Homo sapiens: one gene and its partners. The protein of the gene in region 1 purifies or fractionates together with the protein of each later gene. This does not show direct contact. Each region holds a gene or a part of one and is shown on either strand. Other genes may lie near its edges.

Region 1 (3,500 bases):
CCAAATCATGTATTGGTCATTTAAATGCCCGCTGGGCCTCTCTTTTCCATTTGTGACCCTTGGTCTTGATAGAGAGAATGATCCCTCCATTGTCCCTTCTTCCAAATACAAGGAGAGAGTGGAAAGTATGCCAAAAAATAGAGCATGCACTGTAATTATCTGTCATCAGGGGAGAAAAGTTGAACTAGTCCAGGCCTGAAACCACTTGTATACATAGGCTCAGATGCCTTCATGAAGGGAAGACTGTTCCTTTGAGGGATTGGGGGGAGAGAGTGTGTATAAATAATTTGTTTTTCAAGATTGTTCCCAGAAATCTTTCCAGTATTTGGGCATATTATTGTCTGTGGAGTAATCCCTTACCAAAAGCCAGAGTCTGACTGGCCATCAGGAGAGGAGCCACGGCTTCCAGGGAGCTGGAGCTGCAGAGTCAAGAAGTTTCATAATTTCTGGGGTTGGAACATTTAAATGTTTATTGCTAAACATGGGGCTAATACTCTGTCCCAGTTAGTCACAAGGCTAAAGCTGGTTCAAAGGGCATGTGTACTCAGCAGTCCTAAGGAAGGATGAGGGGGCCGGTGGAGCAAAGAAGGGAAACACAGCCTTCTTCTTTACTTTGCAGCAATGGTTTCTATAGGAGAGGATTTGGTTTTATCTGTGCTAGGTTCCACTGTTGTCTATGTGGCCTTGGATAAGTCTCTGGAGCTCAGTTATCTCTTGGAGTGAGTCAATGGTTATGGCCAGGGCAGACATTCCCAAGTCCCTCTTCTGGCTTGAGATACAGTAACATACTATCTTTTGAAAGTCCCTATACTGACAACTCTAAAGCACATGTTTTGAGTTATTTTTCCAACAGCGGGGATAGATTTACGCTTTTAATGCCCATTTTCACAACTGAGTTCTCTGGTGTGTCTGGTGCACTGCCAAGATGTAAGAAGCTAACAAAATCAAAGAGGATTCAGACCTATATCCTCATTAGCCACCTTAGCTCTGAGCTACTCAGAAAGATGACTTGCTGCAAAAATCTGCATTTTTAAGACTCATAGTTTGCCAGAGGGCCATGTTAGCTCAATTCCAAGGAATTCAAATACATTCCAGTGGGGTGTGTGTTGTATAGACCAGCTGTGTCATACATTTGGATGAGATGGGACACCCCGAAGACTGCTCATTAGGGCCAGCTGGCACAGAACAGTCTGCTCACCCCTGAATAAGCTATCCACTGCCCCTTATGCCTAAAGGGGAATCCTTCAGAAGGGAACCTGCATTTATTGAGCATCACCTGTGTGTCGGGTGCCAGGTTAGGAGCTCTAGGCAGGTGGTTTCCCCCAGAATCCTTAGGAAGTGAACACTGTTATCCCCATTTTAGAGATGAGAAAGCTCAGGCTTAAAGAGGTAAGGTAACTTGCCCCTAATCACACAGCTGTAAGCAGCAGAGCTGGGATCTGAATCCCACTCTACCTGGCTCCAAATCATGCACTCTTCTTGCCACATCATACCTCTTCCATAGGGCTGTCCATGACCTCCTGCTGGAAGCGCATTTGTACTCCAACCATGAAGGGGGTGGGGCAGCAGACGGTGGCCAGAAGGCTCTCAGGGACAACAGGGATGTAGGTGTGCGCCCAGCTGAAGGGGTAGAGCAGTGCGGCAGCAGCATGGATGCACTGAGACAAGGTGCTGGGACAGAGCACAGAGGATGAGAGTCAGGGGGCCCCTGCACCACCATGCTACACACCCCTCATCGCCCACCACCAACAGCAGCTAGAGCAGTGCTGCCCATGCCCATGGGCAGAAAGGCAAGTCTGGGGGCCATGCTGGTCACAGAGCTTGAACGTACATTGCTGGGAGGGAGGGACAGAAACTAGAGAGTCTGAGGCTTCACTATCAAGAAGGGCCTTGATTTGACCCTTCTTTTCCCAGTTAGTCTTCTCAACTTACTACTGGCCAAAAATAAAAGTGACTCTGAAGAGAAGAGGGAAGAAGAGTTGCTTTCATTCAAGGAGATAATTGATTGAGCCCCTAGCCTGTGCTCACAACTGTGAGCATACCTCACAGATGTGGATACCAGGAAGAGTAAGACACTGACCCTGCTTTTAAGGAATTCACAGTGTAGTTAAGAGACAAACATGTAAACAAGCACTGGAGGCTCAGCCGAGAGGCAAAGCCTTTTTACCTCGCTATGTCTATCCACCCTCATCCCCAGCCTTTGCCCCCACACAGCCCCCTCTGGGCACACTCGAGGTTATTAAAGATTACCAGGTTGCTGCCTGAGTAGCTTGGGAAATTCCCAGGTTCTAGGAACCTCTGCCCAGCAATTCCTACACGGAAAGTCCCACAAAGGTGCCTCCTCAAGACTTTCCAGTGAAGCATTTCTCGTCACTCCTGCCCAAGTCACAACTTGGACCCTACTCCTCTCGCCACCACATACACACAGTCCCACTCTCTGTCTTTCTCTTTTATCCCCTGGCTTTCATGGCTCTTCTTTACTCCAGCCAAATTGCCTCAAAGTCAAGGCCAATAAAAGCACAGATGCGGGAATCCTTGTTTCAGTTCTGGGTTTCAAGCTGGCACTTCCTGAATTAGCAAAATTGAGTCTCTGAGAGGCTAGCTGACTGGAAGTCCCCTCCCTGTCCGAGCTTCAGGGAGCTGAAAAACTCAGTGTGGGAAGGAAGTGGGGAGTGGTGGGATTTCCCTGAAGAAAGTAAACGTCTGAGAGGTGAATCCTGCCGACCTCCACTTCCCAAACACTGATCTGAGGAGGAAAGGCAGAATCCCAGCTCTAGCCACACAGGAATTTCTGGTTTCCATTCAAGGCTGGGAGTGAAAGAGCTATTTCCAAAGCAAAAGATGATGCCACTCCCTTCAAGGATTACCTACAACTAGTTCCTCTTTGGTTATCACCCATTTTTACAGAATCTTCAACACAGAGACCCCACTGCTTGCCCAAGTTTCCTTTCCTCTGAAACCCATGGCATTCACCTGCCCCTCTGACTTCTGTTGAGTCCCTAACATCCTTTTCTTCTTCCCTAAAAGATAAAAGCAGGGTTGTCAACCTAAAATCACTGGTTTTCTCCCTCCCCAGATATGAATAGAAGGTCTACCCCTACCCCTACTGTTTTATGACTTCTTTCATTCTCCATTCTATTACATCTCCCCACGTCCTTCTCAGATCTGAAGCCCCTAAAAGGTAGAGACCATGGCACAATAGTACCCTGCTTCCACTATACACAGGGATATACTCAACTGTGAACTTAAGAACAGAAGCTAGCACTCAGCAATATGTGCTCAGCAGGGTGTTAGGTACCTAATGTGCATTATTTCATTTAATCCTCACCACAACCTTATGAGGTAATCACAATCATTATTTCCATTTTTAAGAAGTTAACAAACTAACTTAATGGGAACCTCATAGCTAAAGGTAGAAGAACTGGATTTAAACCTCCTAATTCTGCTGATTTCAATCCCTGTGCTTTCAACCAGTATGTAATTCCGCATCCCCTTCAGGT
Region 2 (3,500 bases), on another chromosome or scaffold:
CTGAGGGGACACATACTCATAACCTCATCTAACCCTAAATACCTCCCAAAGGCCCAACTTTCAAATACCAACACAAAGAGGGATAGGGCTTCAATGTATGAATTTTGGCAGGGGGTGGGGACACAGATAATCAGTTCCTAACACACAGAAAAGGAAGTAGAACCTGGATTATTAATGGCTGCTATCTGCCCATGACAGGCAGATTTCTAAGAAGACCCACGTCCCTCCCCTAAGTGAAGGCAGGACCCGTGAATATAATGAGATGTCACTCCCATGATTGCGTTATGGTACGTAAAGAAGGTGTAGGGATTTTGCAGACGCAATTAAGGACTCTGAGCAAATCAAAAGTGACATGATTCTCAGCGGGCCTGAACTAATCAGGTGAGTTCTTTAAAAGAAAGACTGGGGTCATCACCAAGGTCAGAGATTCTCTTACTGGCCTTGAAGAAGCAAGCTATCATGAGTTTTACAGCTGCAATGAAATGAATTTTTCCAACAATCATGTAAACTTGGAAAAGAAGCCTGAGCCTCAGCTGAGCCTTTAATCTTGACTGCAGTCTTGTGAGACCCTGAGCAGAGACCCACAAAAAGCCATGCCTGGACTCCTACCCCATGGAATCAGTGATATAATAAATACAGGAATACACAAGGTTTTAGGCGGCTAAGTCTGTGGTGCTTTATTACACGGCACAGAAAGCCAATATGCTGCCACAACAAGCTTACTTAAAAGACAAGACCTAAGAACAATTCAGATAGATGGCAAAAGGTGGGAAAAGCTAACTAAATAACCATAATTTTATGTTCCAAACTAATGCTGCTTAAGAGTACAGGATCACAAATTCTTGCCATCCATCCTTCATGCTCCTTAGCTCATGAGCTCCTCTGTGCTTGCTTTATAATTATTTTTTACGTTTAGCTTACCCAGGCCTTTCTACCAAGGACATAGAATAAGACAAAGCTGGTAGGCCGAGTGCCCTGGCTCACGCCTATAATCCCAGCACTTTGGGAGGCTGAGACAGGCGGATCACAAGGTCAAGAGTTCGAGACCAGCCTAGCCAAAATGGTGAAACCCTGTCTCTACTAATCATACAAAAATTAGCTGGACGTGGTGGCGGGCACCTGTAATCCCAGCTAATTGGGAGGCTGAGGCAGGAGAATTGCTAGAACCCGGGAGGCGGAGGTTGCAGTGAGCCAAGATTGCACCACTGCACTCTAGCCTGAGCAACGGAGCAAGACTCTATGTCTCGAAAAAAAAAAGAAAAAAAGAAGTTTAAAAAAAAAAAAAAGACAAAGCTGGCCATTTAAGTTAACAGCTACTATAGCCTAAGTATTTCTTCATGGTCAAGTTAACTGGGAATACTATGAAGGGACAGTAAAACATGAAGGCAAAGCTATGATGTGGTTACTTTCTCTATCTTTGTATTCAAAACATAAAATTTGGCAAGCTCACTGAAAAATACCGCCCAATTCTAATTACCTCATCAAACAACAAAATAATGGCTTCTTCTAAGACAGCTCCAATGATTCATTTCTTGTGAAATCCCTTCCCCTTAAGTGTGTGCTAGATTTATTAACTCACTTCCAATGAGCTCAATATAGTCAAGTGATAGGTGGTCCCTTAGAAGGTCACTTTTATAAAAAGCCTGTGGCTTTCATCGTGGGGACTCTCTCGGCTCACTCCCCCAGGGAAGGTGCTGCCAGGTACTGCAGCACTGCGGAGAGGCCCAATGGCAAGGAGCCAAGGCCTGCCAGTGACCCACCAGTAGGCTTGGAAACAAACTTCCCCTTCTTCTCCCAAGCTGAGCCTTCAGCTGAAGTCACAGCCATGGCTAACCATTTGCAACCTCCAGGGCGACTGGAACCCCGTTAAGCCACACCCAGATTCCTGACTCACAGAAACTCCGAGGTAATAAATATTTGTCATTTTAAACCAGGATGTTCTGAGGTAATCTGATATGTGGCAATGGATAACTAATACCACCACCAAATGTAAGGTAAAAACATTAGATGCTTTGAGGCAAGAGTAAAAAAAAAAAAATTCAAAAAGAAGACAAAAGGTCTCACCTTAAGCACTCTTCCTGAAAGGCCAACAATCTCACCATCCTTTGGCTCTACTTCTGTAGCAGTATTCACATCGCCACTTCCTGTTGTATCAATGATATCAACGATTTTTGGTTTTCCATCAGTTGTAACCTGAAAATTAAGAAAATTAAAATATGAATGGTAGATTTTAGGTTTTTATTCCTAAACAATGCAAATCCACATATATATGTGTGTGTATATACAAAATCTACATTCACTTAAAAAAGAGAACTGAACTGTTTTAAGCCAAAAGCCTGAACAAATACTAGTAAGAAAATTTAATCGTGGAAACACTACAGAATCCTTCAAGTCGTTTCATATATTCAATAAACAAATATTTACTGAGCATTTACTATAGACCACACCCTATTTTAGGTGCTGGGGATATGGCAGTGATCCATACGCAAAAATCCCTGACGATCTTATAGCGAGAAAGCAGTTCAGTTAATAACAAAGTAAAATAAAGAACATGTCAGATGTGCTATCACACTGGGTATTAGGGAAAAAAAAGAACATGTCAGATGGTGAAAATTAACTATGGAGAAAAATTAAGCAGGGAAGGGAGATGGTCAGTGTGGGGTTTTCAACATAAGTTTGGCTGGTCAAGGAAGGCCTTGCTGAGATGGTAACATTTGAGAAAAGATCTAAAGATGGTGAGCTGTGGGCTGGACAAGTTTAGAGCTTTAGGGGGAAAAAATGTTTAGTAGTAATGGTACCATTTAATGGCACCATTATTGGATGCCACACTAGCACCTCAAACGCAACAAAGTTCAAGCTTAACATGCCCCCCACCACCTGATTTTCTCCAGGCTTTGCCATCCCAGGAATCCCCACGCCCAGCTGTTCACACTGGAAACTTAACAATCCTCCTCTGATTCTTTACTTCAGTTGACTCCTCACAGCGAAGCTAACAGGAAATCCTGTTAATTCTTTGTCTAGAAGAGAGCTCAAATCCATTGCATTTTCACTACCACTATCCTAACTTTCCAAACCACCACCATCTCTTGCCTCCATGAGGTGAATTACCTAAGTGGTCCCTCAGTTTCCACTCTTGGCCCCATCAAAAGTAATACAGGCTGAGTGACCCTAACCTGAAAATTCCAAATGCTCCAAAATCATGGACATGAAGTTCAAAGGACATGTTCATTGGAGACTTTCGAATTTGCGATACTCAACCTGTATTAAAACAAGCTGTATTTTATCAGTCCTCTCCTTTAAGCCCATCAATGTATTCATGGAGCACTCAGAATACTCGCATAAAAAGCCTCGCACCATCTGACCCCTGCCACCCCGTTACTCAGGAGTCTAACCACGCCAACCTCCTTTCAATTCCTGAAACATGCCAAACTTTTTCCTGCCTCATGACTTTTTAAACAGGTTCCTTCTGCCTAGAATTCTTTATCTCTTCAGTTGTTCCA
Region 3 (3,500 bases), on another chromosome or scaffold:
AAAAAGAGAGAGAGAGAGAGATGGAGGTCTCACTGTCTTGCCCAGGCTGGTCTTGAACTCCTGTCCTTAAGTGATCCTCCTGCCTTGGCCTGCCAAAGTGTTAGCGTACCTGCGCCCGGCCTGAATGCATTTTTTTTTTTTTTTGAGACTTACTCTGTCGCCCAGGCTGGAGTACAATGGTGTGATACTGGCTCACTGCAACCTCAGCCTCCTGGGTTAAAGCGATTCTCCTGCCTCAGCCTCCTGAGTAGCTGGGATTACAGGTGTGCACCACCATGCCCAGTTAATTTTTTGTGTTTCTGGTAGAAATGGGGTTTCACCATGTTGGCCAGGCTGGTCTCAAACTCCTGACATCATGATCTGCCTACCTCGACCTCCCATAGTGCTGGGATTACAGCAGACCTGAGCCACCGTGCCTGGCCCTTAAATGCAGTTCTTTACATTCAATACAGTACTTACTAGTCTTGTTTCTTTCTTTTTTTTTTTGAGACAGAGTCTTGGTCTGTCGCACAGGCTGGAGTGCAGTGGCGCGATCTCAGCTTACTGCACCCTCCGCCTCTGGGGTTCAAACGATTCTTCTGCCTCAGCCTCCCGAGTACCTGGGATTACAGGCGCCTGCCACCACACCCGGCTAAGAGACAGGGTTTCTCCATGTTGGCCAGGCTGGTCTTGAACTCCTGGCCTCAGGCGATCTGCCCGCCTTGGCCTCCCAGAGTGTTGGGATTATAGGCGTGAGCCACTGCATCCCGCCTGGAGGCTTATTTCTAATGATTTGGTATTATAATCCACATTGCAGGAAAAACCTTCTTGTATTAGTGTTTGTACCCTCAAGTAATGGATAAGATTACATTCTTAGATAGTACATTGCTAGAGTAAAGAGAGAGCCTTTTTTTTGGCAGAGGGGTAGAGATGGGGGTCTTGCTATGTTGCTTAGGCTGGTCTTGAACTCCTGGCATCCAGTGATCCTCCTGTCTCAGCTTCCCAAAGTGCTGAGATAACATGAGATAACAGGCATAAGCCACTGTGCCCAGTCAAAAGTGATTTTTTTTTTTTTTTGAAATGGAGTCTTGCTCTTGTTGCTCAGGCTGGAGTGCAGTGGCGCGATCTCCTAGGTTCAAGTGATTCTCCTGCTTCAGCCTTCTAGGTTCAAGCAATTCTCCTGCTTCAGCCTCCCAAGTAGCTGGGACTACAGACATCTGCCATCATGCTGGGCTAATTTTTGTTTTAGTAGAGATGGGGTTTCACCATGTTGGCCAGGCTGGTCTTGAACTCCTGACCTCTTGATCTGCCTGCCTCGGCCTCCCAAAGTGCTGGGATTACAAGCATGAGCCACCGTGACTGGCTGATTTTTTGTTTTGTTTTGTTTTAGGACTTTGATCAATATAGATTGGCAGGCAGGGGGTTAGATGGTTAGATGGTGCCGCAAACATAGGAGTAGCCCGTTTTTTACATCAGAAATTGGGAAATCCACAAATAGAATATTTTTCTCCTGATTTATGCACGTAGCAAAAGTTTTATGAAGATGTAACATTTATACCAAATTTAGTAATTATGTATGTAACAGGCCACATTTAATGAAAGCATAACCAGGATAAAATAATTTCCTTACCCAGCTCTTTTTCTTCTACAGACACAGCAGGATGCCAATGCCTCTTCCCTCTTAGACATCTATAGCTTCTGGCTCAAGTAAGCCTTTCCTGTTCCATTTTGGCTATTTTCTCCCCCAAGATAGGCTGGGCTGTGTTTCTTGGTTTGGGAAGATTCCAGTCCCCTAGAAATTGGTCCAATCTACCTCAGCAGGTCTGCCAAGGTCCCAGAGCGAAAGTTACAGGCAAATGGACCAGTGGCTAAGAAAGCTAAGAAGAAGGCCTCATCCAGTGACAGTGAGGACAGCAGCGAGGAGGAGGAGGAAGTTCAAGGGCCTCCAGCAAAGAAGGCTGGTAAGGCAGAGTAGCAGGTGGGCTTGGTGGTGCCAGGAAAAGAATTTACAGCCTGCTTGTTTCACATGGCTGATTCTTACTGGGACCTGTGTGTTTGTTCAGCTGTACCTGCCAAGCGAGTCGGTCTGCCTCCTGGGAAGGCTGCAGCCAAAGCATCAGAGAGTAGCAGCAGTGAAGAGTCCAGTGATGATGATGATGAGGAGGACCAAAAGAAACAGCCTGTCCAGGTTTGCAGCTTTGGGAAGAAAAAGGGGTTTAAGGATTAGAAAGGAAGAAACCTAAAATCTTGGCCTCTAGCTTGTAACCAAGGGGTGATGGCGGCAATACAATAGGTGATTATGAGGAAGAAAATCTGGGGATTTTCAGGGAGCTGATAAAAGTATGAGGTCTGGAAGGGATGTGTGAGGTTGAGGTCAGGCTCCGAATCTAGAGGAAATTAAACCCATTCTGCTTGAGGAGTTTGGGTTCTTCTGGGACACTATTCAGGGCTCCAAGAATAAGAGAGAGTGTTTTCCTGGGAGCTTTGGCAGGATAAGGCAGGAACAGGGCCAGTGTATCAAGTGGCTGAACTTTGTTGTTTTTTGCCCTTTCCGTATCCTGTCCTTAGCTTTCTTTTGCTCTTACTGCTCCATTAGGCCCCTAAAAATAAAAGGAACCTAGGATGCCCTTTGGGTACCCGGAAGCTTTTGCTGATTTCTCTCCTTGTGTCTTTTCTAACAGAAGGGAGTTAAGCCCCAAGCCAAGGCAGCCAAAGCTCCTCCTAAGAAGGCCAAGAGCTCTGATTCTGATTCTGACTCAAGCTCCGAGGATGAGCCACCAAAGAACCAGAAGCCAAAGATAACACCTGTGACAGTTAAAGCTCAGACTAAAGCCCCTCCCAAACCAGGTACTGTTTCTGTTCCCAAGAGGCTGGGCTGGGGACCAGATTGCTCTGGGGACTGGAGTTAAAATTGCCGATTTGGCACAGGGGTGAAATGGTACTGTTTGTTGAACTGGAGGTGTTGATTACTGGTCTTTTAATTTTAAAGGTTTTACTAATAAATAACAAGATTTCATAGGAGCTAGTAAATAGAGAAAGTTATTGCAGCAAGAAAAAATGTGTATTTTTTTTAATGGTATCCATTTGGTATTTTGTGACATTTCATAGACATTTTATGTTTTCACACATCCCATTCCACTGTAATCACTTAAATATCTATTTGTTGTGCTTTTCACTGCCATTTTTACTCTTGTATGTTCATTCTATGAGACAAATGAGAATTTTTCTTTTTTTCTGTAACTTGTGATGAGGGTTAGGTTATTTCTCTGAATGGAGGTTGAAGTGAAAGATTTTAGAGGGCGTATTGAGATTATTTATGTCATCTTTTCTAAGAAGACAGTTTTATTCCTGCCATGGGATAGGAAAGGTATCCTTTGATGTGGTAAACCATGGCTGGCATTCTCCTCGATGGCTGCTCTAAAGTTGAAAGAATTGGTGGACTCCTGGCCAGGCACAGTGGCTCACACCTATAATCCCAGCACTTTGGGAGGCTGAGGCGGGCGGATTGCTTGAGGTCAGGA
Region 4 (3,500 bases), on another chromosome or scaffold:
GCTGATTATTAAGACAGAGGTTCAGAGCCATCATAGAAAATTGATATTTTAGTAGTTCGTTTGTTTAGCTTCAGGGCAGTGCAATATGGAAACTCTGGAATTTCCTGAATCTTTTTTACTTTAAAAGCTCTTTATATGGATTGCATTTAATCTTTGTAGTCTTTTTTATGTAAGCACCATTAGCATCCTGTTCTCTAGCCAGCAGCACCAGTAGTGAGATGTCATTTTCAGTTGTTAGATTATTCATGGGGGCAGGAAGCATAAAAGGTAGCCTGGTTGTAGAAAGGGCACTGACATTGCAGTTAGAAGGTCTAGGGGTCAAGTCAGACTCGCTGGAGGGGTGATCGGAGTTAAATCACTTTCTCTTCCTGCCTCAGCTTCCTCCTGGGGGTTGTTGTAAACCTCAAGAGAGATTATATACATAAGAACATTATGTAAATGTAAACTATCACTAACTCTAAAAAATAACTTTGTTTAAAATAACCCACTTAAAGTGTATAATTCATTGGTTTTTATATGTCCACAGAGTTGTGCAATCATCACCACAATTAATTCTAGAGCATTTTGTCACTCCTGTATTTCCCCATAAGCCTCCCAGCCCTAGGCAACCACTAATCTCCTTTCTGTCTCTCTAGATTTGCCTATTCTGGATATGTTTATTATTATTGTTGTTGTTATCAAGACAGGGTCTCGTTCTGTCACCCAGGCTGGAGTGCTGTGGCATGATTATAGCTCATTGAAGCCTCGACCTCCTGTGTTCAAGCAATCCTCCCACCTCAGCCTCCCAAGTAGCTGGGACTATAGGCGTGTGCCACCACCTGGCCAATTTTTTAAACTTTTATTAAAGAAGAGGTCTCGCTATGTTGTCCAGGCTATTCTTGAACTCCTAGCCTCAAGCAGTCCTCCTGCCTTGGCCTCCCAAAGTGTTTAGATTACAGGCATTAGCCACCATGGCCGACCTGGATATTTTATATAAATGAAATCATAATATGTAGTCTTTTGTGACTGACTTCTTTCACTTAGTATGTTTTTGAGGTTTATCCATTTAGCATGTATTAGTACTTCACTCCTTTTTATGTCTGAGTAATATTCCATTTTATGTATATACCACATTTTGTTTATCTGTCCATCTGTTGATTTATATTTGTGGTGTTTCCTCCTTTTTGCTATTGTGACTGGTGCTGCTGTGAACGTTTATATACAACAATTTGAGTACCTATTTTCAGTTCTTTTGAGTGTATACTGGAAAGTAGAATTGCTGGCTGGTACGGTAACTCTTTCTAACTTTTTGAGAAACTGCAGCTGCATCATTTTAGATTTCCCATCGGCAATAAGTGTACTAGTTTCTCCACCTCTTCACTAACACTTTAACACTTGTCTTTTCCTTTTTTTGTTGTTGTTGAGACAGGGTCTCACTCTGTCGCCCAGGCTAGCTAGAGTTCAGTGGTATGATCATGGCTGGCTGCAGCCTCAATCTCCTGGGCTCAAGCAGTTCTCCCACCTCAGCCTGCCAAGTAGCTGGGACTACAAGCATGTACCACCATGTCCAGCCAATTTTTAAAATTTTTGTAGAGACAGGGTCTCACCATGTTGTCCAGGCTAGTCTCCAACTCCTGGACTCAAGTGATCCTCCTGCCTTGGCCTCCCAAAGTACTGGAATTACAGGTGTGAGCCACCGTGCCTGGCCTCCCTTTTTGTGATAATAGCTATCCTGGTGGGTGTGAAATGGTCTTTCATTGTGTGTTTTTTGTTGTTGTTTGTTTGTTGTTTGTTTTCAAGACGGAGTCTCACTCTGTCGCCAGGCTGGAGTGCAGTGGCGTGATCTTGGCTCACTGCAACCTCCGACTCCTGGGTTCAAGCAATTCTTCTGCCTCAGCCTCCCGAGTAGCTGGGATTACAGGCACATGCCACCATGCCCAGCTAATTTTTGTATTTTTAGTGGAGATGGGGTTTCACCATTTTGGCCAGGATGGTCTCAATCTCCTGACCTCGTGATCCGTCCACCTTGGTTTCCCAAAGTGCTGGGATTACAGGTGTGAGCCACTGCACCGGGCCTGTTTGTTTGTTTGTTTATTTTTTGAGATGGAATCTCACTCTGTCGCCCAGGCTAGAGTGGCGCAGATGAGTACAGCAATACCCTATATATGTTCTCTTTCTCTCTCTTTTTTTTTTTTTGAAACGGATTCTTGCTCTGTCGCTAGGCTGGAGTGCAGTGGCGCGATCTTGGCTCATTGCAACCTCCCTCCCGGATTAAAGCGATTCTCCTGCCTCAGCCTCCCAAGTAGCTGGGACTACAAGTGTGCGCCACCATGCCCAGCTAATTTTTGTATTTTTAGTAGAGACGGGGTTTCACCATGTTGGCCAGGATGGTCTCGATCTCTTGATCCCCCCGCCTCGGCCTCCCAAAATGCTGGGATTACAGGTGTGAGCCCCTGTGCCTGGCCCGTAGTCTCTCATTTTAAACATATTCCAACTTAATGCTATCAAATATTTTATATTTTGTTGTAATTAACATATTAAATATTTTTAATGTACTTAAAAGGTACACCAGAGTTTCTTGCAGGAAAGCCAAAATATCTATTAGCTCCTTTCCCTTAGTTCCTTTCTCCTATCTAATAGAAATCAGTTTTTATATACATTTCATTGCTACTTAAAAACCAAATATCTTTTAACCAGATTTGAAATCAAGAAAAAACTAAAAACAGCCAAAAAGAAAGAAAAGAAAGAAAAGAAGAAAAAGCAAGAAGAGGAGCAAGAAAAGAAAAAACTGACACAGATTCAAGAATCTCAGGTAGGAGATTCAGTGTTCCTCATTGTCCAAAGAATAAACCTGTTTTGAGTGTGTGTGTGTGTGTGTGTGTGTGTGTGTGTGTAAAAGGTGGATTTATATTAATCAGCCTAAGTTTATAAGACTTGTGACATGGTTTCATTAATCTCTGGACATATCACCATTAGCTGTGCTGTTAAATCCTTAGCACTTTTTCCTTTGCTTTCCTTTTTCCTTTTCTTTTTTCTTTCTTCTTTCTTTTTCCCTTTTCTTCCCCTCCCTTCCTCCTTCCCCCTTCCCTTCCTCCTTCCCTTCCTCTTCCCTTTCCCTGGTCTCATTATGTTGCCCGGGCTAGAATACAGTGGCTATTCACTGGCACAGTCATAACACACTGAAGCCTCAAACTCCTAGTCTCAAGCAGTCCTCCTGAGTTGCTGAGACTACAGGCATATGCTACCGTGCCCGGCTTTCACTGAAGTCTGCATTTAAAAAGCAGCCCTCAACTGCAGTGACTCACATGTGTAATCCCAGCACTTTGAGAGGCCGAGGCAGACAGATCACTCAAGGCCAGGAGTTTGAGACCAGCCTGGCCAACGTGGCGAAATCCTGTCTCTACTAAAAATACAAAAATTAGCCTGGCGTGGTGGCTTATGCCTTTAATCCCAGCTACTCGGGGGGCTGAGGCACAAGAATTGCTTGAACCTCAGAAGCGGAGGTTGCAGTGAGCTGAGAT
Region 5 (3,500 bases), on another chromosome or scaffold:
AGTTTCACAGTTTCAGGTCTAATGTTTAAGTCTTTAATCTGTTTTGCGTTGATGTTTGTATATGCTGTGGGACTAAGGTCTATTTTCATTCTTCTGCATCTGGGTATTCTGTTTTCTTGGCACCATTTATTGAAGACACTGTCTTTTCCCTATTGTGTCTTCTTAGCATCTTTGTCGAAAATCAGTTGACTGCCAATGTCTGGATTTATCTCTGGTTTCTTTGTTCTCTGTAGCTCTATGTGTCTGTTTTTATACTATTGTCATTCTGTTTTGATTACTATAACTTTGTAGCAGATTCCAGGTCAGGGAGTGTGATGCCTCCAGCTTTGTTCTTTTTGTTCAAGATTGCTGTGGCTATTTGGAGTTTTTTGTGGTTCCATGTGAGTTTTAGGATTGTTTTTTCTATTTCTGTGAAAAACGTAACTGGAATTTTGATAGGGATTGAGTCCAGTCTGTATGTTGCTTTGGGTACTGTGGACATTTTAACATATTATTTCAGTCCATGGACATGGGATGTCATGCATGTTCTTCCATTTTTTCATCAGCAATTTGTAGTTTTTAGTGTACAGCTCTTTCATCTCCATGGTTAGATTTATTCCTAACTTTTTTTTTCATAGCTATTGTAAATGGGATGTTTTCTTGATTTTTCAGAAAGATAGTTCATTGTAAGCATATGGAAGCACTACTGATTTTTGTATGTTGATTTTGTGTCTGCAGCTTTACTAAATTAGTTTATTAGTTCTAACAATTTTTTGGTTAAGTCTTTAGGGTTTTCTATATTAAGATCCTGTTTACAGCAAACAGGCTTCTCTATTTTTGATTTGGATACCTTTTATTTCTTTCTCTTGCCTAATGGCTCTGGCTAGGACTTCTAGTACTATGTTGAATAGAATTGGAAAGAGTAGGCACCCTTTTCTTATTCCTGATCCTAGAGGAAAAGCTTTCAGCTTGTCACCGTTGAGTATATTAGCTATGGGTTCGTCATATATGGCCTTTATTCCAATTTAATTTCTAGTGAGAGTGAAATGGGAATGTGAGAGAAATGGGAAAGATGAGCAATACATTTTAGAAAAGCAGAAGGGAATCACCGTATTCTATAAGAATATGTGGCTTTAAGCAATTGGTGATATTTAAAAGGGTCAGAAAATAGAATTACTCCATGTTGTATTTATTATTTTAAAATCTGAGGGCTGTTTTCTCATGTCATTTTACATGACTATGATTCATCTTTAAAAAAATATGGAATGTAGTGGCCAGGCACGGTCGCTGTAATCCTAGCCTGTAATCCTAGCACTTTGGGAGCCTGAGGCAAGAGGACCACTTGAGTCCAGGAGTTGCCTGGGCAACATTGTGAAAACCTGTCTCTATGAAAAATACAAAAATTAGCTGGGCGTGGTGGCACACAGTAGTCCCAGCTCCTCCGGAGGCTGAGGTGGGAGGATTGCTTGAGCCCAGGAGGCAGAGCTTCCAGTGAGCCAAGATCGCCCCACTGCACTCCTGCCTGGGTGACAGAGTGAGACCCTGTCTCTCCCCAACCTCTCCAAAAAAGGTGGGGGTATAAAGTAGGAGCAGCAAGTTTTAGAGGTAGAGAAAGTTGATCAAGAGACAGCCATTATCCTCAAAAGTGGGCAGAGATCTCTCCAATTTACTTAGAAAAAAAGTAGACTTAGAAGAGTTATGGATTGCTAAAGATACTATAATTTATAAGCTGCATCCTTTTTCTTATTTTCCACTCTAGTGATTCAGTTGTCATATCTAAAACTACCATTAAGACTTTTTTTCCTGACTTTTGGCAATCCAATAATTACTTGTCATTACATTGCTAAAAGTAACTTTAGTTTGCCCAATTTGCCTTTCCCCTTCCTCATCAAATGCATATAGAAACATGACCATTTTCAAAATGAGTTACAAGTAGGTACCTTTTAATTTCCTGTTACTGTTTTAGCATTAATCTGGCATTGCTTTTAATTCGTTTCTTTATTTCTCACAGGAGTATTCCACATCTTCATTTTATTCTACTAAAATTAGACTTAAAGATTTAAACCCAAATTTGTCTTTAATCACAAAATTAATTTTATAAAAATGACAGATCTGTAGTAGAAACTTTATGTTATCTACCTTTTATACTTTTGAAGCAGGTCTGCTTTTGTTTACTTTTTAAAAAATGTTAAAGAAATTATTTATATGAACCTTTTTAAGGTTCAAATTCATGATTAGATATAACAGACTGGGAAAAGAGGAATTATATGTAGAGAGAAAAATTTTGGTGATAAATTGCAGTAAAATCTTCATTCTATTTTACAAAATCACAAATTCACATTTCGTTTTCTGAAAAACAATTTTTATTTATTAGTAAGACAAACTCTTTCCAGTTAGTTCTGATTTAGATTTTATGATTACTTATAGAGAAATATTACTGAATTTTAATAGTTTTTGTTTCGTTTAATTAATTTGGTGATTATTGTTGACTCCTTTTTAAATTCTTTTTTAAACAGAGGACTGCTGTCCAGGTCTGTTTTGCAAGCACAGAGTGCTTCTCCAATCTTCACCCATGTTTATGCAGCATTAGTGGCAATTATCAACTCAAAATTTCCACAAATTGGAGAATTAATCCTCAAAAGGTTAATTCTTAATTTTCGAAAAGGCTATCGAAGAAATGACAAGGTATATATGAATGGCTTGTAAGTAGAATGATACATAGGAACAAACTAACAAACCAGTATCAACAAAAGTAAGCAAGGTTGATTTTGACACAGCTACATAACATAATGCTTTTTAAAAACTGTCTTTCATGAGAACTTCTTTGATCTGTTAAATATCCCTGGCCACTATTGATGAGCCACAAAAATGATGGCTATAACTGTAGAACTATAACTATTTAACCAGAAGGGATACTCTTTCATGTGTTTTATTTTGTAACTTTCTTATAATGTAAAAATTATACTTGTGTGGTACATGTTTTAAATAGATGATGTTAGTAGGCCATAGATTATGTAAATAAATGAAAATTGGGTTTAGTTTATAGGTTAACTTTCCACCTTTATTTTTCAGCAACTTTGCCTGACTGCTTCAAAATTTGTGGCGCATCTTATTAACCAAAATGTGGTAAGTAATTATCTTCAATACTTGGTCCCATTCAGTGGCATTAGACCAGAGGGTTGATGCCACTTCACTGATACCTCTCTATTTTTGCTTTGCTTTATAGTCCTTGGGATAAAAATGTTGGATGATATTTTCATTTTAAAACTATAATAAATATATTTAATGTTCTTTTTTTTTTTCTTTTTTTGAGATGGAGTCTCACTCTGTCGCCCAGGCTGGAGTGCAGTGGCACAATCTTGGCTCACTGCAAGCTCTGCCTCCTGGGTTCACACCATTCTCCTGCCTCAGCCTCCCGAGTAGCTGGGACTACGGGCACCTGCCACCACGCCCGGCTAGTTTTTTTTGTATTTTTAGTAGAGACGGGGTTTCACCATGTTAGCCAGGATGGTCTCGATCTC
Region 6 (3,500 bases), on another chromosome or scaffold:
CTCTGTCTCCAAAAAATAAAAAAAAAAAGACCATGCATCTACAGCTATTTGGCTTGAAGGTATGACCTGTGATTCCTGCAGCCCCACTACCTACTGTTCCCCAAGAGAATAATTTCAGTTTTTAAAATATTAAGATTATAAACTGGTGTGGTGGCACATGCCTGTAATCCCAGCTACTCAGGAGGCAGAGGGAAGATCACTTGAACCCAGGAGTTCAAAACTAGCCTGGGCAACACAGTGAGCCCTCATCTGGGAAGAAAAAAAAAAAGAAAATATTAAGATTGAGAGGCAAAATACCATCCAGAGAAAAAGAAATGGTTCTCCTGGGTCTGCTTAGTTACCATTCCTGTCAGGTGCACCTTCCCTGGCAATATTCTCTATTTCTTTACCTGGATCACAGACAAAGAATAGAGCTATCCTTTTACAAACAAAAGTGCATGCATTTGTCCTTTCACAAGTAGAAGTGAATTACCTAGGTCACTAGTGACGAAAGAGTTGATTCCAAAAAACAGATCCCCACTTTTCTTTTTTCGAGATGGAATTTTGCTCTGTCGCCCAGGCTGGACTGCAGTGGCATGATCTGGGCTCTCTGCAACCTCCTCCCCTTGGGTTCAAGCGATTCTCCTGCCTCAGCCTCCCAAGTAGCTGGGATTCCAGGTGCCTGCCACCACGCCTGGCTAACTTTTTGTATTTTTAGTAGAGATGGGGTTTTGCCACGTTGGTCAGGCTGGTCTCGAACTGACCTCAGCTGATTCGCCCGCCTCGGCCTCCCAAAAGTGTTAGCATTACAGGCGTGAGCCACCATGCCCAGCTATCCCCACTTTTCATTCTAACTCTTTGCAAGGCAAACTGAGTGGTATTATCAAAATCTAAGTCCACCCTTAAAATCTACAATTTACTGTCTAGGATTCTGTTATGCAGAAACACTGACATGCCCATCTGTCCAACCTGATGCTCCCTACCCATTGCCTGCCAAGGCCAACGTGAATGCCTGGGTTCAAATGCTATTTCTGCCACTGTAATTTTTTTTAAAATCATTACCTCAGCCTTTCTCATCTATAAAAATGGGGATAATGACAATAATTACAGTACTCAGTGACTTATTATGCAGAGAGAGCATGCCTGACTCAGAACAAGTGATATCCAAATGTTAGCTCTAATTTTTATTAGTACAATGAATGTTGTTAGTCCTATCATGGGTAAGTTGGTGAATTTTTAAAAGTTGTACAAGTCTGTACAACTTTTCTGGAAGCTAATTTGACAGTACTTATCAATTTTTATATGTACCTTCTCTTAGACCAATGAGTATTTCTTCTAAGAATAAATCCAACTGAATAATTTTCCAAGTACAAAAAAAATACAAGAATATTCACTAAAGCACTATGTAGCAAACAGAAAAGAATGACATACATCACACACTTTATATACTGAGATAGCCCATGATAGGTAAAAAAGCAAGGTGCAGAACAGTATGTTATGATATTTGTAGTTTAAAAGTATAAGTACATATGGTTGCACATGTATAGAAATCTGGCTCTAAGATATACCCCATACCCCAAACTTAACCAAGGATACTTCTGGAGAGTGAGGTGTGGGAAAAAGTATATGATAAAAGTAGTAGGAAACTTTTTATCTTGGACTATCCAAGGAGCCACTAACTACAGCAATATGAAATGAGAACTCGTCTCTAATATTTTGTTTTGTTTGAGATGCGGTCTTGCTCTGCTGCCCAGTCTGGAGTGGAGTGACACGATCATGGCTCACTGCAGCCTCAACTTCTGAGGCTCAAGTGATCCTCTCACCTAAGCCTCCCAACTAGCTGGGACTACAGGCATCCATCACTGAGCCTAGCTAATTTTTTTTGTTTGTTTTTTGGGGTTTTTTTGGTAGAATAAGGGTCTCCCTGTGTTGCCCAGGCTGCTCACAAACTCCTGGACTCAAGTGATCCTCCCACCTCGGCCTCCCAAAGTGTTGGTATCACAGGCATAAGCCAACATGCCTGGCCCATCTCTAACATTTAATCAATGTGTTTTTTTGTTCGTTTGTTTGTTTGTTTTTTGAGGTAGGGTCTCACTCTGTCGCCCAGGCTGCAGCGCAGTGGCACCATCTCAACTCACCGAAGCCTTTACTTCCCAGGCTTAAATGATCCTCCCACCTCAGCCCCTCAAGCAGCTGGGACTACAGGCATGTGCCACCATGCCCAGCTAATTTTGTTGTATTTTTCTGTAGACATGGGGTTTCACCATGTTGTCGAGGCTGGTCTCGAACTCCTGAGCTCAGGCAATCTGCCTGCCTCAGCCTCCCAAAGTGCTGGATTATAGGCATGAGACATGGCGCCCAGCCTTCATCAAGTATTAATTGCCAGAGTTAAAAGGGTCAGGGAAGACAGAATGCACTGTTTCCTTACAGAATTGATTCTTCAAAAGGGAGTTTCTCAGGCCGGGGGCAGTGGCTCAGGCTTGTAGTCCCAACACTTTGGGAGGCCAAGGCGGGAGGACTACTTGAGCCCAGGAGTTTGAGACCAGCCTGGGCAACTTAGTGAGACCTCTCTACTAAAAATAAAAAACTGCACCTGTAGTCCCAGCTACTCAAAAGGCTGAGGCAGGAGGAGCCCTTGAGCTCAGGAGTTCGAGGCTGTATAAGCCAAGGTTGCGCCACTGCACTCCAGCCTGGGCAATGGAGTGAGACCCTGTCTCAAAAAATAAGGGAGTCTCTCTGAATCTACTGTAATTCTGAGGGCTGCACGATTAAAAAAAATTTAAAAATTAATTAAAAAAAATTAAAAACCGCCAGACACAGTTGCTCACTCCTGTAATCCCAGCACTTTGGGAAGCTGAGGAGGGCAAATCACTTGAGGTCACAAGTTCGAGACCAGCCTGGCCAACATGGTGAAACCCCATCTCTACTAAAAATACAAAAAAATTAGCCTGGCATGGTGGCGGGTGCCTGTAATCCTAGCTACTCGGGAGGCTGAGGCAGGAGAATCGCTTGAACCTGGGAGGCAGATGTTGCAGTGAGCCAAGATCGTGCCACTGCACTCCAGCCTGGGCAACAGAGTGAGACTCTGTCTCAAGAAAAATAAATAAATTAATTAATTAATTAAAATAAAATAAAAAAACCAAATCTGCCAACACCCTGATCTTGGACTTGTAGTCTCCAGAAGAGTAAGAAATAAATTTCCATTTTTTAAGCCATACAGTCTGTGGTATTTTGTTATAGCAGCCCCAGCAAACTAACACAGGGGGCTCCAAGCCAATAGAAGCACCTCCTCCTCCTCCCAGGACAGTTAGAGACCACCTTTAGGAACTCGCTGTCAGAAACCTGGGGGCAGATGAAGCCAGATTCCTGGGGCTTAAGAGAATGGGCTATGAGGAAACAGCAGTGGAACACAAGTGTGTGGTGCATCCAAAGCCTCAAAGGCTGTTTCTCAGGATTCCCACAACCTAGTTCCACTTTTCCTCATTAGCCTTCTCAGTACTGCCAATGATCCCAACAGAATG
Region 7 (4,131 bases), on another chromosome or scaffold:
TGTTTGCGTCTTTCTGCAAGGGGCATATTACCTGGCAAACAGTAGGTATTAATCAGCATGGGTTGAATGGTTTCAATGGCAGAAAAGCAAAAGAATAAAGGTTTGGTCCTTTACTCAAGTGGTCCTACATTCACTAATGTAACAAGCAGGCAAAACTCCGCTTGAGAAGCCACCAGCTCGCGCCCTGGGATCCTGGGGAGGGCATGGGCTCCAGCCCTGGGATCCCGGGGAGGGCACAGGATCGAGCCCTGGGATCCCGGGGAGGGCAGGGACTCTAAGTCTGGGATCCTGGTGAGGGCACGGGCTACAGCCCTCAGATCTTGGCCGCCAGAACTGCACTCCAGGCCACGCGGTGCTGAAGCGGGAGCCAGGCCCTATCTCCTGCGGGAACCCCGCTTGGGGGCCGGCACCGGGGCCATAAGAACACGCGGCCCTCTGTTCTTGGGGGTATGCGCTACAGCAGCATGGACCTCGGTCAGGTTATGAAAACGTGTGCATTTATGAGCTTTAGTTGTGCCCCAATGTTTTCTATGCGCTGTTCTTAGTCTGTTTTTCGTGTTTTGAGAAAACTGAAGATAACAGAAAGGTACAAAACACACGCCCATATTCCCATCATCCAGCATCAAAACCGCCAACATTTCGTCCCATTTGTTTCCCGGGTTTTGTTTCCTGTTTCACCAGAAATCACTGGTGGAGACGGAGACCCCAGTGCCTTCTCTCCGCCTCGGGCGCCTGGAGAAGCAGCTTCGGGGTCGGGGCGCCCTCCCAAGCGGTTGCCTCCGCGGTTCTCAAGCAACTACGCCGCCGTTTGGGTGGCGCTCGCGCCGAGACTTCATTTTCATTTAGCAAACATGGAGTGCTCCGCGCCGCTCTGGAGCCGGGGTGTGAGGGTGAACAGGGCTCCCCACGCTCGTTCCCAGAGCAAAGGAAGGCCCGCGGTGTCAGCGCAAGGGCGGGTGCGGGCCGGGAAACGACAAGCTGCCGCCTCACTCCTACCCAAAACCAGGCTCTGAAGTCCCTCCCGGCCCGCGACGCGCGCGCCCCACCCCGGCGCTGGCCCCGCCCCCTCACGCTGCCTCCTCATTGGCTCCTCCCGGCATCGCCACGCCCACAGGAGGCTCCTCCCAATGCTCACTTCACCTTTCACCTCTTCAGGGCCTCCGGTACGCCTCAGGCCCCGCCCACCGGGGGGTGGGGAAAGATGCTCTTCCGTGACCCACAATTATTGGTGACTATTGCCTGTCCATAACAGGAAAAGCGATTACGGATTGGCTGAGGCGAAGTAGTAGGGCAGAAAAGTGGGTATAGCTGCCTGCACGCACGCTTGGTGCGTGCGCGGCGACTGCGACGGGCAGTGGCAGTCATGGCGGCTCAGTGCGTGAGGTTGGCGCGGCGCAGTCTTCCTGCTTTGGCGTTGTCTCTCAGGTAAGGGGCACTTGGTCTCCCTGGGTGGAGGTGGCAGCGCGACCTCCCGCTCCGATGGGGGCCTTTCCCGGCCCCGGGGCCTCCTTCCCGGCCTCGGCCCCGGAGCTGGGCATCTCCGGGCTCGCGGTTCCCCGCCGCGGGACGCGGACCGCCCCGCTGGGGCCTGCTCTGCTGCCAGGCTGCCAGCTCAGGGCTTGGGAAGCGTGGAGCGGGCGGGCGCCGTGTCAGGAGGAGAGGACCGCAGCGCGGGGGGCGTTTGGCTCGGAAGGTACGGTGGCCCACGTGCGCGTGTGGTCCAGGGCCTGCGGCGACGCCTCGCGCGCATTCACGGTCTCGGCGCTCACGGGCGCAGAGGCAGCCGCAACTTGTGCGGTTGAAGAAGCGACCAAAGAAGCTCGAGCTTTGTCCAAGGTCACGCAGCGAGGCCGAGCCGGGCCGGGTGTGCCCTGGGCAGGAGCTGTGGTTACTCATTTCCGTGCCGCAGCTCGAGGCCGGGGCCACAGCGGTGCTCGGGAAACTTCGTGTCGCAAGGTGCGTGTTGCCCGTTCACGGGCTTTTTCCACTCGACCTCGAATTCCTTCACTCCGCCTTCTCCAGCGTCTGAGGTCAAAAGAGCAGTCGAACCTGTGCTGCTGCTGGGCGAAGAGTTTGTTTAGACAAGGGCACATTTCGGGCCTGAGGGCCACGAGACAGTGCCCCTTTTTTTTTTTCCCCTCAAATCTGCCCCTTCTGCTTTTTGAAAGTTCTACTTTAGAAGTTAGTATGGCAAGTACTTGCTGGAGGAAGTGCCTAGAACCAAGTTATTGATTAGAGAAGCCACTGAGGGCCAAATTGGCCAAAAGCTGGGCAGTGAGATGTAGTTCTTTCCTGAAGGAGAGCAGGCAGGTGAGGTGAAGATCACTTTCAGTCTAGGTGATTAAGGGGTAAGTGCTAGCTTAATAAATTATATCTTAACAACACAGGAGCCAAGAGCAACGACCCACGTGGAATACTTGAGTAAAAAGACTTTGGTCAAGTAATTGGTGGTTTTGTATTGGAATTAATTGCCAGGAAAGTGACCACCAAGTCAGCATCATTTCTGTCTCTAGAATGGTAGTTTTGTGGAAAGATGCTCAACTAGGGAAAGGCAGGAGAACTGACTGGTAGTCATAGCTCTCAGAGTAACTAGGCTTTCTGAGACTCAGTTTCCCTCTGCAGAACGAGATGGCCCCGGGTGTGGGTCCTGTTGCACATTCCTGGCCACACTTTGTGTTGGCTGTGCTTCGGAAAGGGGTCTGTGAAGAGCTGACCTGCAGAAAGGCTGGTGGCTGTCACACCCCCAGGCAGAACAACTGGAGAGGAAGGTGGGCTTCACAACAGTACACTCAGTTTTTATTTAAATTCTTAGCTTTTTAAATTCACAAGAGTAAAAATATAAAATGGTCATCGCTCTCCACCCCCATGGCAAGACTGTAATGGAGGCTTCCACTCCACTTCTTTCCACAGATCTAAGATATTAATAAGTACACAGGATTTCTAGTTTGTCTTTACAAAAATAGGATCCTGTTTTGTGTATTTCTCTGTAAGTTGCATTTCTTAACAGAACATCCAAAGTGTATCCAATAAATGGCAGTTTAACTCATTTTTAGGAGCTGCATAATATTCCAGATTGTGTTAGCAAGTTTATTCAACCATTTGCTCGCTGACAAACATTGTTTCCAACTTGTCGCTCGCAGTGCTGCAATAAACAGCCTTGACTGAGTTCTGTGTGCTGGCAGCCTTCACCTTCCTATTCGTTGAAGCAGTTTTAATCTGGGAAGAAAATTGAATGTAGCTTATTCTCAGATAGGACTGTGGCCTAATTTAAAAAGAGGTCCTGGCCGGGTGCGGGCGGATCACGAGGTCAGGAGATCCTAGACCATCCTGGCTAACACAGTGAAACCCCGTCTCTACTAAAAAAATACAAAAAAATTAGCCGAGCGTGTTGGTGGACGCCTATAGTCCCAGCTACTCGGCAGGCTGAGGCAGGAGAATGGCGTGAACCCGGGCGGCGGAGCTTGCAGTGAGCCGAGATGGCACCACTGCACTCCAGCCTGGGTGACAGAGCAAGACTCCGTCTCAAAAAAAAAAAAAAAGAGGTCCTCTGGTCCTGGTGAAGAAATCTAGGTTTTAAGACTTTATTTTATCATTCGTTGATGGCTTTGTGACCTGGGCTTATCACTTGGTCTTGGTCTATTTCACCGGTACATATCCCATGCTTTCCTGTCTTCATGCCTTTGTCCAAGCAGTTTCATCTTCCTGAAGCTGCATCTATCCCATTGTCCCACCTCTGATCCCTTTTTCGTAACTCTTACCTATCCTACAAAGCCTTTCATGGTTTTCCATTCCCCAAGCTAGGTATCTCCTTCTACTCTGAGCCTCCCAAAGCACAAAGCACTTAGTTCCCTTTTTTTTTTTAATCACTTTTTTTTTTTTTTGAGACAGAGTTTCCCTCTTGTCGCCCAGGCTGGAGTGCAGTGGCGCGATCTCAGCTCACCTCAACCTGCGCCTCCCTGATTCAAGCGATTTTCCTGCCTCAGCCTCCCAAGTAGCTGGGATTACAGGCATGCACCACCACGCCAGGCTAATTTTGTATTTTTAGAAGAGACGGGGTTTCTCCATGTTGGTCAGGCTGGTCCCGAACTCCTGATCTCAAGTGATCCACCTGCTTTGGCCTCCCTAAGTGCT

Evidence for each region.
Region 2: the proteins of DENND2D (region 1) and TPP2 purify together in Homo sapiens (affinity purification with mass spectrometry; 3 studies listed by BioGRID and IntAct, with this or other methods). This does not show direct contact.
Region 3: the proteins of DENND2D (region 1) and NOLC1 purify together in Homo sapiens (affinity purification with mass spectrometry; 3 studies listed by BioGRID and IntAct, with this or other methods). This does not show direct contact.
Region 4: the proteins of DENND2D (region 1) and RTF1 purify together in Homo sapiens (affinity purification with mass spectrometry; 3 studies listed by BioGRID and IntAct, with this or other methods). This does not show direct contact.
Region 5: the proteins of DENND2D (region 1) and CWC22 purify together in Homo sapiens (affinity purification with mass spectrometry; 3 studies listed by BioGRID and IntAct, with this or other methods). This does not show direct contact.
Region 6: the proteins of DENND2D (region 1) and COIL purify together in Homo sapiens (affinity purification with mass spectrometry, with the first as the bait; one large-scale study listed by BioGRID). This does not show direct contact.
Region 7: the proteins of DENND2D (region 1) and GRPEL1 purify together in Homo sapiens (affinity purification with mass spectrometry; 3 studies listed by BioGRID and IntAct, with this or other methods). This does not show direct contact.

What each region holds. Positions count from the first base shown.
Region 1 is NC_000001.11:111,190,647-111,194,146, forward strand, and holds part of DENND2D (DENN domain-containing protein 2D), read right to left. Parts: intron 1,672-3,500; coding exon 1,494-1,671; intron 420-1,493; coding exon of another isoform or gene 361-419; intron 1-360. UniProt on the Homo sapiens protein: Guanine nucleotide exchange factor (GEF) which may activate RAB9A and RAB9B. Promotes the exchange of GDP to GTP, converting inactive GDP-bound Rab proteins into their active GTP-bound form.
Region 2 is NC_000013.11:102,603,486-102,606,985, reverse strand, and holds part of TPP2 (tripeptidyl-peptidase 2), read right to left. Parts: intron 2,194-3,500; coding exon 2,065-2,193; intron 1-2,064. UniProt on the Homo sapiens protein: Cytosolic tripeptidyl-peptidase that releases N-terminal tripeptides from polypeptides and is a component of the proteolytic cascade acting downstream of the 26S proteasome in the ubiquitin-proteasome pathway.
Region 3 is NC_000010.11:102,155,389-102,158,888, forward strand, and holds part of NOLC1 (nucleolar and coiled-body phosphoprotein 1), read left to right. Parts: intron 1-1,630; coding exon 1,631-1,686; intron 1,687-1,797; coding exon of another isoform or gene 1,798-1,800; coding exon 1,801-1,940; intron 1,941-2,042; coding exon 2,043-2,167; intron 2,168-2,660; coding exon 2,661-2,826; intron 2,827-3,500. UniProt on the Homo sapiens protein: Nucleolar protein that acts as a regulator of RNA polymerase I by connecting RNA polymerase I with enzymes responsible for ribosomal processing and modification.
Region 4 is NC_000015.10:41,462,095-41,465,594, forward strand, and holds part of RTF1 (RNA polymerase-associated protein RTF1 homolog), read left to right. Parts: intron 1-2,676; coding exon 2,677-2,791; intron 2,792-3,500. UniProt on the Homo sapiens protein: Component of the PAF1 complex (PAF1C) which has multiple functions during transcription by RNA polymerase II and is implicated in regulation of development and maintenance of embryonic stem cell pluripotency.
Region 5 is NC_000002.12:179,972,798-179,976,297, reverse strand, and holds part of CWC22 (pre-mRNA-splicing factor CWC22 homolog), read left to right. Parts: intron 1-2,495; coding exon 2,496-2,664; intron 2,665-3,051; coding exon 3,052-3,105; intron 3,106-3,500. UniProt on the Homo sapiens protein: Required for pre-mRNA splicing as component of the spliceosome. As a component of the minor spliceosome, involved in the splicing of U12-type introns in pre-mRNAs. Promotes exon-junction complex (EJC) assembly.
Region 6 is NC_000017.11:56,954,551-56,958,050, forward strand, and holds part of COIL (coilin), read right to left. Parts: intron 1-3,500. UniProt on the Homo sapiens protein: Component of nuclear coiled bodies, also known as Cajal bodies or CBs, which are involved in the modification and assembly of nucleoplasmic snRNPs.
Region 7 is NC_000004.12:7,065,265-7,069,395, reverse strand, and holds the start of GRPEL1 (grpE protein homolog 1, mitochondrial precursor), read left to right. Parts: upstream 1-1,331; 5' UTR 1,332-1,363; coding exon 1,364-1,425; intron 1,426-2,769; exon of another isoform or gene 2,770-3,216; intron 3,217-4,131. UniProt on the Homo sapiens protein: Essential component of the PAM complex, a complex required for the translocation of transit peptide-containing proteins from the inner membrane into the mitochondrial matrix in an ATP-dependent manner.